Linked DNA regions of Homo sapiens. The protein of the gene in region 1 purifies or fractionates together with the protein of each later gene. This does not show direct contact. Each region holds a gene or a part of one and is shown on either strand. Other genes may lie near its edges.

Region 1 (3,652 bases):
CCTGCTCTTAGGGCTCCTGGCCCCATCCCCAACACAAGACCTGACTGTGTCCACTGCTGAGCCTGTTCCCAGCATCTGTCATGGAGATGACAGGGGTCTTGGATGGTGAACCAGCCGGGAGGAGGCAGCAAGAGAGAAGGAGCAGAAGGTACCTCTCTGGGAAGGCGAGAAGCATTCTCCCCACAGTTCCCTCCAGGCAGCTCTGGCCCCGGCAGCAACTTCCTACATCAGCCCAGTGCACAGAGGGGCATCCTCATCCTTCTGCAACATCCCACCCTGCTCCAAGGGCCTCCTGGGCTTCCAGGACGCATCTCCCCTGGTGTTCCTCTCACCCCTCTGGCCACCTGTCATGCATCCTCTGCACCTGGCATTTGGAACCTGGAGCTTCAAAGGCTGGAGGGTCCCAGGACGCTTGCTCTCCTCAGGCCAGCTTGTTCATGCCACACCAGCTCAAAGGTCCCTTCCTCCAGGAAGTCCTCCCTAACTACCGCCAATGCACACACATATGCACATATACACGCATGCACATGGGACAAATATGTTTTCTTTCTTGCATGGTCTCTTTGTACTCTGAGCTTCCCAGCACTTAGCACAAATAATTAACTCTGTACTTAGTGCCATGAGTCTGAGCCAGACACTGTCTCATTCTGCCTCCTGCCCCCATGCCTGCCCTAAGCAGTCATTCAATAAATGTCCGTGAATGAATGAACGCACAAATGATCTCACATGATCCTAGGTATTCTATAAAGTGGGGGCAAAGAGAGAATCACCAAGTTGCCCGAGGCCATGCAGCCTCTGCAGAGGCAGGCTTCAGATCCAGCTCTGACTGTAAAGCTCATACACACCCCACCATCACACTCCAAAGGAAACAGGCATCCCCCCCTGAACTAGACTTAAAGATTCAAGTCTTCTAAAGGTGCGTGAGGCTGGCTGGGCGCGGTGGCTCACGCCTGTAATTCCAGCACTTTGGGAGGCCAAGGTGAGCAGATCACGAGGTCAGGAGTTAGAGACCACTCTGGCCAACATAGTGAAACCCCGTCTCTACTAAGAATACAAAAAATTAGCCAGGCGTGGTGGCGGGCACCTGTAATCCCAGCTACTTGGGAGGCTGAGGCAGGAGGATTGCTTGAACCTGGGAGGCAGAGGTTGCAGTGAGCCAAGATCACACCCCAGACAGTGCAAGACTCCGTCTCAAAAAAAAAGATACGCGAGGCTGTCCAGTGTGCTGGTGAGGGGTATGACGTCAGGGCCAAGCTGCCCAAGCTCAAGTCCTGCTGCTGTCACTTAGCAGCTATGCACCCACAGTCTTGCTACCTGGACTCTCTGGGCCTCCATGTCCCCTCATTGATGAGGGGGACAATGACAGCACCTCCTTTGCAGGGCTAGGGTGAGGGTATAGCTAGGTAACACAGGTGAACTGGGGCAGGGGTGGGGCAGGAAGGTGCTCGAGTCCCCGTGCTGTGGGGAGACCATGCTGGGTGCACAGGTGTTGGATTTCCATCCTCAACCTATCACACGCATCAGTGACTCTCAGAAATGGCACTGTGCAGGTCCATAGAGGAGTTCTAGGCCAAAACAAGAAGCCGGGCTTCATACCTAGGTAGCAAAACTCACAGGACCTTTTCACTCCAGTGGGTAACAGGATCCAAAATGAAAAACAGGGCCAGGCGCAGTGGCTCACGCCTGTAATCCCAACACTTTGGGAGGCCGAGACAGGTGGATCACTTGAGGTCAGGAGTTCAAGACCAGTCTGGCCAACATGGTGAAACTACATCTCTACTAAAAATACAAAAATTAGCCAGGTGTGGTGGCGCATGCCTGTAGTCGCAGCTACTCAGGAGACTGAGGCAGGAGAATGGTTTGAATACAGGAGGTGGAGGTTACAGTGAGCCGAGATCACACTACTGCCCTCCAGCCTGGCCGGCAGAGTGAGACCCCGTCTCAAAAATAATAATAAAAAATAAAAATAGGTTCAAAACAACACTGGATCACCTATTTCGTAGGGCTGCTGAGATGACGACATTGGTTACTAAATGTAAAGCATTTCACCTATAATAATTACCCAGAGGACACTCACATCTTATAGTGAAGGAAACAGAGGCAGAGAGTTTGTGGGTGTCATCAAGATCTCTCCAGACACTTTCAGAATTGGGACCAACACACAGCTTCCTAACCCCCTTCTCATGTTGGCTCCGCACAGTGTAGTAACCCGCAAATAACCTGTAGGAAGCTATGGCGACTGGTGCCTCGCTCCCTCCCACCCCAGCCTCTAGTTAGGACCACTGTGGGGTTAAAGGAGGTGGGGCCCAGCCCAGCTCTAGGCCCAGCCCCAGCCCCGCTCCTCGCTGGGTGACTTGTGGCAGATGACTTAGCCAGTCCTGAGCTCCCCTCCAGCCTGAGGGGGTCTCCTATCCCAGGGAAGTTGACACAGTGGTTCCCCCCTCCCACCCTGTTTACTTATAGGGCCACATGTGAGATCATCACAAGGAAACTGGAACCATATGGGGCCTACGAAAGGATTCATTCATCAAATTGTTATGATTTGCTATTCTGCAAAAGGAAAATCTTGTTGTATAAAATATGCTGGCAAAATAACTACATGCCCTCTTAGAACTGTTCTAATAAACTTCACCTGGAAGGCGGCCCTGACCAGGTGCCCAGTGCTCAGAGCCCGGGCTTAAAGTCTCACCAGGTCAGGGAAGCTGCTGGAGAAGTCTCTAGACAGCACAGTCTCCCCCAGTGGTGAGGAGGGGGTGGAACTGGAAGGAACTGGAAGTGGGTAGAAGGAGGGGGTTTCCCTGGAAGTCTCGTGTTTTCTCTTCCTTCCAGGTATTTGGCCCTGCCATTTCCCCTGCCAGGAACACCCTTTCCCCCATCCTCCCAGCCCTACCCACAGACTTAGCCACTGCCTTTTCCTCCTTAGGTTCCCAGTTTGCATGCCGCTTCCTCCGGGAAGTCTTCCCTGACTCTGCCAGTAGGGCTCAGTTCATTTTTCTGGATCTCCTAGTTGCATGAGGGGGAAAAACTGGGTCTCTCTCCTTTCCTGCCACATCCACAAGTTATAGAGCAGTGTCTGGCACTGAGCTGTCCCTTAGTGAATGAATGACTGAATGGCTAAGAACACCACCTTTCCTGACACGGGTTTGGCACTGACGACTACCAGTCCTATAGCCCCATGGGGCCTTCTGCTCAGCGCCTGGCTGGGAAATTCAGTAGTAGTAGAATGTGCAGAGGCATCTTGGGGAAAACAATTCTGGGGTATTGGCAGAATTGCGCTCTTCCCGCGCTCCCCTCACATCAAGCCTCATCTCCTCCAAGGAGCCGCCAGGGAGCCCCCAAGGGCTGCGAAGGCTCCTGGTGCCAACACTTCCTAGAGAAGGGGACAACAGGAATAATAGCTAACATTAATAACAGGGCTGCCAGCCGGCACGGTGGCTCACACCTGTAATTCCAGCACTTTGGGAGGCCGAGGTAGGTGGATCACCTGAGGTCAGGAGTTCGAGACTAGCCTGGCCAAGATGGTGAAACCCCATCTCTACTAAAAGTACAAAAATTAGCTGGGCGTGATGGGCGCCTGCAATCCCAGCTGCTGGGGAGGCTGAAGCAGGAGAATCGCTTCAACTCGGGAGGCGGAGGTTGCAGTGAGTCGAGA
Region 2 (3,652 bases), on another chromosome or scaffold:
AGCTGAGATGGCGCCATTGTACTCCAGCCTGGGCAACAAACTAAGAGCCTGTCTCAAAAAAAAAAAAAAAAAAATTAGATTCTATTTGCAAAAAATACAAAATAGTGTGGTCGGAAAGAGCAAAACCTCTGAAATCAGAGTGCTTACTGTGTGACCTACAGAAATTTTGTTAACTTCCTATCTTGGTTTCCATCCATACATTACTAATAATCATCATCATCTTATTATCAAGTTAGGGTGGTGAATAAATGAATTAACCTAAGTGAGAACCCTCAGTCTCCCCTCTCTACCAACCCCATGCCTCCCTAGGGTTTATCATAATGCAGATTTATAACAGATCAGAGTCAGGCGCAGTGGCTCACGTCTATAATCCCACCACTTTGGGAGGCCGAGATGGGCATATCGCTTGAGCTCGGGAGTTCGAGGCCAGCATGGGCAACGTGGCAAAACCCCATCTCTACTAAAAACATAAAAATTAGTCAGACGTGGTGGTGTGTGACTGTAGTCCCAGCTACTCAGGAGGCTGAGGTCAGAGGATAAACTGAGCCCGGGAGGCCGAGGCTGCAATGAGCTATAATCCACCACTGAACTTCAGCCTGGGCAACAGAGTGAGACCATGTCCCAAAAAAAAAAAAAAAAAAAAAAAAAAATTGTGTACATAATTCTTTAACTGGTTACAGCGGCCTCATGCCTGTAATCCCAACATTTTGGGAGGCAAGGCACGAGGATCACTTGATCCAGTTCAAGACCAGCCTGGGCAATGTGGCCAGACCTCTTCCCTACAAAAAAATTTTTTTAAATAGCAGAGCTTGGTGGCGTGCTCCTGTGGCCCCAGCTACTTGGGAGGCTGAGGCAGGAAAATCGCTTGCGGTGAGGATGTCGAGGCTGCAGTGAACCACGATGAAGCCACTGCATTCCAGTCTGGGCAACAGAACAAGGCCCTGTCTCTAAAAAGAAATCTAAGTACAGAATTATATCAATTTAAGGAAGAAAACTATTATAAGAACTACTTTGCAATGGCAGAGACAGCCGCGGCAGCAGTAGCGTGCTCAACAAGAAGTGCGTAGCCCCACTCTCCCAAAAGAAAAAAACGAATCATTGTAAAACACAAAAACCTTAAATAAGAACTCTTTAAATGAGTGCTGGAGGAAAAATTTAAGAGGCTTTGAGGAAAAACATTTACTGACAAAATGTTCAATGTACAAAAATTCTGTATCCTTACTTTTCATATATAGGTTTATCAACACTTTATACATGGCCTTCAGAATTTCAAATAGTAGGTTTTTTTTTTTTCAAGAGGGAAACCAATTAGACCAAATGACAAGGCATACTTATACTACCAGGAAAGAAATACTGAAGAACGTGTCTTGTTTCATAAACTTGGTACTGACTAAATAAAAGAAAGCCTCACATTTTTGTGCCTAAGAATGATTAGTATAGGGATTCTCAAAGCATGATCTGGGGACAAGTGAATCCAGTTGTCCTAAAAGATCCCAGTCCCCACTAAAGGGGCTTCCCAATGTCAAAATTATTATCCAAATAATTTTTTTAAAGTTATTGGTCAGCCGGGCACAGTGGCTCACATCCGTGATCCTAGCACCTTGGGAGGTAGAGGTGGGCTGATCACTTGAGCTCAGGAGTTCAAAACCAGCCTGGTCAATATGGTGAAACCCTATCTCTACTAAAAAATACAAAACTTAGCCAGGGGTGATGGCATGTGCGTCTGATTCCAGCTACTCAGGAGGGTGAGGCACGAGAATTGCTTGAACCCAGGAGGCAGAGGTTGCAGTGAGCCAAGATTGCGCCACCTCCAGCCAGGGCGACAGAGCAAGACTCCTTCTCAAAATAAATACATAAATAAAGAATAGTTATTTGTCTTTTTCACTTTCATTCTGTTTTCTAGAGGTTTACACATGGTATGTGATATTGCAACAGACTGAATGCAGAAGCTGATGAGAAGCCCATTGGCTTTTATTAAGCCAGATATTAAAGAGATATGCAAAAATTTAAAACAATGCCACTCTTTTCACCAAGTTCTTAACTGTTTTAGAAAAGTTATTTTTCATAAAAAAATGTTATTTAGGTTACCATGTAATAGAATTAATTTTTATTTGTTTATTTATTTTTTGAGACAGTCTCACTCTGCACCCAGGCTGGAGTACAGTGGCATGATCTCTGCAACCTCTGCTCCGGGGTTCAAGCGATTCTCCTGCCTCAGCCTCCTGAGTAGCTGGGATTACAGGAGCCCACCACCACGCCCAGCTCATTTTTTTATTTTTAGTAGAGACGGAGTTTCACCATGTTGCCCAGGCTGGTCTCGAACTCCTGGCCTCAAGCGATCCACCCGCCTCGGCCTCTCAAAGTGCTGGGATTACAGGTGTGAGCCACCAAGCCCGGCCCCCACTAATTTTTAAGAGTACAAATAAGTACAAAGAAGTCCTGAGACCACAGGCTTGAGAACAACTGAAAGTGTAAGAGATAAGTGACAACACACACACACACACACACACGTGCACGCACAAACCTCAACCTCTTCCTACCTCTGCCCTGGAAGACTATTACTGCTATTTATATCACAGAATTTTTGAACACTTCAAACTCTCTAGTGACCAGTAAAAAAAGAAGTTTGGTGGGGGTAAAACTGGACAGGAAATTAAAGGCAAAGAAATTAAATGCTTCCTTTTCAGTTATAAGGCTGCCATTCTGATGTGAAGGCAAAATTATAGGCAATTAAAAGACATTTCAAAATTAACCTCTATGTTTGTGCCATAAGCAATAATTTATTGCTTTCACATTCCTTCCACAGCTGCTTGAAAATTCATACAAAAGCTTAAGGTATTCAATGCAAAAGCTAGATTCTCAGAGGTTGATATAATATACTTACCCTCAATGAAAAATTTAAATGATTTCATACTATCTTCATCCCCAAACTGTTCTCCTACCAAAATTGATGCCTATGCAGAAAATGCCACAGTTGCATATCGAAAAGAGAATGCAAAGGCTTACTACGGATAAAAACAGAATTAATTTCTGAGTCATAACATTTCTCACTTCTGTAACCCATAAAGTAAAAAAATGTAAATTTGACAATCTCAAAGCAGCCAACTTCTCAACATACCAATATAAAAGAAAAGACAAATTTAAAGACAGACTTTTAAGCTCTATTAGCGGTCACTTTACTCTCAATACACTACTCAAATTGAAAACTCACTTTAATATGGGAGGAGACGTTGTGTAAGTTAACTTTAATTTGTTTAATACTGGAAATTCTTTCTTGTCATCAAAATATTTTTATAACTCAGGACCAAATTGCAAATGACCATTTAACTAAGCTATTAGGAGGGCCCTGGGTCCTCCAGCCTCCAGACTGGCACCAAATTACTTCACTTTTCAGGTATGTTTAGCATTTCGTCATCCTATAATACAAGAAGCCTTATAAGAAAAAAAAAACCCTGCTTGAATGCTATTTTTCATCAGAAGACTTTAATTTAATGCTTCTCTGCTTATTCCACACTATGACTAGAAGTAGTCCAAGAGTGATGTCATGGAAAACAGCTTCCCTAGCCTTTAGAGATTGGATCCAGTGAGAATTCTAGGAAAAGCCTCTATTGGGGAATAAAACCCCAAATCTTCTAAGTTCTATTCTAACATG
Region 3 (3,652 bases), on another chromosome or scaffold:
CTCCAGAACTACTTCATCTTACAAATCTGAAACTCTCTACCTATTAAACAAAACAACCTACCTTTCCTCCCATTCCCAGCCCCTGGCAACCACCATTCTACACTCTGTCTCTATGAATTTGACTATTCTAGATATCTCATAGAAGTGGAATCACACAGTATTTGTTTTGTGAGTAACTTATTTCACTTAGCATAATGTCCTCAAAGTTGGTTCATGTTGTAACGTGTGACAGGATTTCCTTTAAGGCTGAAAAGAACATTCCATTGTATCTATATACCACAGTTTGTTTATCTGTTCACCCATTAATGGACATTTGGATTGCTTCTACCTCTTGGTAGAATGTAAAATTGTACCATGTAAAATTGTGAATAGTGCTCCTGTAAACATGGATATGCAGATATTTCTTTGAGATCCTGCTTTCAGTTGTTTTGGATATAGGCACAGGAGTGGGATTGCTGGATCATATGGTAATTATAATTTTAATTTTAGTATCGTAATTCTAATTTCTTAGGTAGAACTACCATACTGTTTTCCACAGCAGTTGTACCATTTTCCAGTCCTACCTACAGTATACAAGGGTTCCAGTTCTCCATCCCTTAGTCAGCAGTTGCTATTTACTGTTTTTGTCATAGTGGTCATCCTGATGGGTGTGATACGATACCTCATTTTGTTTTGATTTGCATTTCTCTGATGATTAGTGATATTGAGCATCTTTTTATGTGCTTGTTGGCCACTTGTAAATCATCTTTGGGGAAATATCTACTCACATCCTTTGACCATTTTTTAATTAGGTTATTTTGATTTTTGTTGAGTTGTGAGAGTTCTTTATATGTTCTGGAGACATGAGTTTTAATGTAACAGTATGACAGATTTATTAATGGTTTCAGATTCTGCATTGTAACTAACCTTTAAGGAGCTAACTGTTGAATTCTGTGGTTTCATATAAGTATATCTAGAATTATCTGAAAGACGATTAGAATATTCTTTTCAGTATCATATCTTTGAGAGGCTGGATTTTATACCTGAACTGAAAGAGCAGATCATAACAGATTGAGTGCTAAAGCAGATATGAGAATCTACTTGTTCTTTTTAAAACCTAGACATTAGGAGATTTGCAAAAATGTAAAATTAAGCCACTCTTAATGTATTTTGATAGGAAATAGTTATTTTTAATTTAAAATGCATTGATATATAGGTATTTTTAAATAAATGTTTCTAGATTTGTTTTTCATTTTCTGAAGTAGTAAATATTGGTAGGCATTATCTATGTAAACAGATGCTTTTTTAGGTCTGTAGTAATTTCCATTTATGTTTTAATTTTTTTTTTAGAGACAGGATCTCGCTTTGTCACCCAGGCTGGAGTATAGTGGTGTGATCAGGGCTCACTGCTGTCTCAACACGTTGAGCTCAAACAGTCCTCCTGCCTCAGTCTCCTGAGTTGCTGGGACTACAGGCACTCACCACAGTACCCTGCTAATTTTTAACTTTTTGTAGAGATGAGATCTCATTATGTTGCCCAGGCTGGTCTCAAACTCCTGGCCTCAAGCAATCCTCCTGCCTGGGGCTCAAAGTGCTAGGATTATAGATGTGAGTCGCTGTGCCCAGCCAGTAATTTTTAAGAATGCACATGGAGTTCTGAGATCTAAGTCTGAGATCTACTGGCTTTAAGAAACTAGTGGGGTTTTTTTACTGTCATACACGGGGGGAATTCTGTGTAATTTTTTATTATTACTGCGTACTTAAAACCAGCCATACATGTTTAGGGTTTGCTGATAAAATTAAATAGCAATACATGTATCAAGAAAATCTCACTTTTTTGTTTCTTTTGATGTAACAGAAATAGAAGTTTGTTGAATGAGGAAAATAGGAGAGCTAATTGTTTGTTGTTGTTGTTTTTGTTGTTGTTAAGACAGGGCCTCACTCCCGTAGCCCAGGCTGGAGTGCAGTGGCGCCATCTTGTCTCACTGCAGCCTCGACCTCTGGGTTTAGGTGATTCACCACCTGAGCCTTCTCAGTAGCTGGGACTACAGGCCTGCACTGCCACACCTGGCTAATTTTTTGTATTTTTAGTAGAGACGGGGTTTTGTCATGTTGCCCAGGCTGGCCTCAAACTTCTGGGCTCAAGTGATTCGCCCGCCTTGGACTCCCAAAGTGCTAGGATTACAGGCGTGAGCCACCGTGCTTGTCTCTAATTGTTTGTTTGTTTGTTTGTTTGTTTTTTAAAGATAATTGTTTAAATTTGGTATAAAGACAGTTATCTAAAATTGTGGACTGGAGAAGTCTTAAAACCAATGGGATCCTTCATAGTTTTTCCAGTATTAAAAAGATGAAGGTGATAATTTTCACCACTTTTGAAAAATATTAAGGGCTAGGACCGTTAATCTATCATTTCAGAGACCTGAGCTCCCAACCACATGGGGTATCTGATTAAATCATACAAATACTGACCTGCTATGATCTAGGTATAAAACAAGAAAGGGAAGGTCTCTGCTTTCATGGGGATGTACAAGCAACTAACAAGTACACAAATAACATAAAGTGGGATAACTTTAGATCATGGTGAATGTTATTAAGAGGTAAAATTGGGTAATGTGACTGGGATTTGTGGGGCTACCTTGTTGGTCAGGAGAACTCCAAAAGGAACCGGCCTTCTGAAGGTATGGGGAAGAGCTTATCAGGCAGAGGAGAGTGTGTCCTAATGGGAGAGGAAGAAGAGCAGAGTAGAGAACGCATGAACAACAAGGAGGAAGATGGGAAACCTGAGGGCAGAGGCGTGAAGGCTTTTAGGGCTTGGGGGCTATGGTGAGCAGTTTGGTTGTTTTTCAAATTATAAAGGGAAGGCATGGGAACATTTTAGATCACACAATGTGGTATCAGTGACACAACGATTACTTTGGTTGCAGTGAAGAATAAGATTGTAGGAGCAAGAGAGTAAAAACCTATGCCTTAATAAAAAAATGGAAATAAGACTGAAGGAAAACAAACACCAATTTCTTTAAAAAAAAAAAACAAAAAAAAAACCCTCTGTGCCTTGAATAGCTTTTCTAAGTTTTAAATAAACGTTCTGTGGTTATGTAAGATGCTAATACAGGAGAAGCAAAGTGAACCGTATACAGGAACTCTACTATTTTTCCAGTTCTTCTGTAAGTCTGAAATTATCTCAAAATTTAACTGTTAAGTAAACAATAACAAACAGTATTTTATACCTTGAATGAACAATTAAAACTTTTGATTTGGGTACAGAACCAAGAGCAGATGAGTCCAGAAAAATAAAAAATCATATTTTTTTCAATTAACTGACTTGGGACAAAATACTTCTATTCTGTTGAATCCATCTCTGAGCTGGGGCCCAGTAGTTTGTCTTTGGTTTTTGTACTTTTTAAAGCTTTCCCAGATTCTGATGCTTGCTAATACGTTGCATGGACAAAATTTCAGGTGTAGCCTTCTTTAGTAAATTCAGTCTTCATAGTCGGTAATCAGCGAAACACTTTGTCAACTTTTTTTTTTTTTTTTTAATCCCCAGCGACATCTCGAATCAGCGATGCACACTTGGCAGACACAATGATTGGCAAAGCAGTGGAACATATGTTTGAGACAGAGGATGGTTCTAAAGATGAGTGGAGGGGAATGGTCTTAGCACGTGCACCTGTCA

What was found.
Region 2: the proteins of FBLN1 (region 1) and KLHL15 purify together in Homo sapiens (co-immunoprecipitation; one large-scale study listed by IntAct). This does not show direct contact.
Region 3: the proteins of FBLN1 (region 1) and SPIN1 fractionate together in Homo sapiens (co-fractionation; one large-scale study listed by BioGRID). This does not show direct contact.

Annotation. Positions count from the first base shown.
Region 1 is NC_000022.11:45,505,837-45,509,488, reverse strand, and holds part of FBLN1 (fibulin-1 isoform D precursor), read right to left. Parts: intron 1-3,652. UniProt on the Homo sapiens protein: Incorporated into fibronectin-containing matrix fibers. May play a role in cell adhesion and migration along protein fibers within the extracellular matrix (ECM).
Region 2 is NC_000023.11:24,017,157-24,020,808, forward strand, and holds part of KLHL15 (kelch-like protein 15), read right to left. Parts: intron 1-3,652. UniProt on the Homo sapiens protein: Substrate-specific adapter for CUL3 E3 ubiquitin-protein ligase complex.
Region 3 is NC_000009.12:88,464,849-88,468,500, forward strand, and holds part of SPIN1 (spindlin-1), read left to right. Parts: intron 1-3,523; coding exon 3,524-3,652. UniProt on the Homo sapiens protein: Chromatin reader that specifically recognizes and binds histone H3 both trimethylated at 'Lys-4' and 'Lys-9' (H3K4me3K9me3) and is involved in piRNA-mediated retrotransposon silencing during spermatogenesis.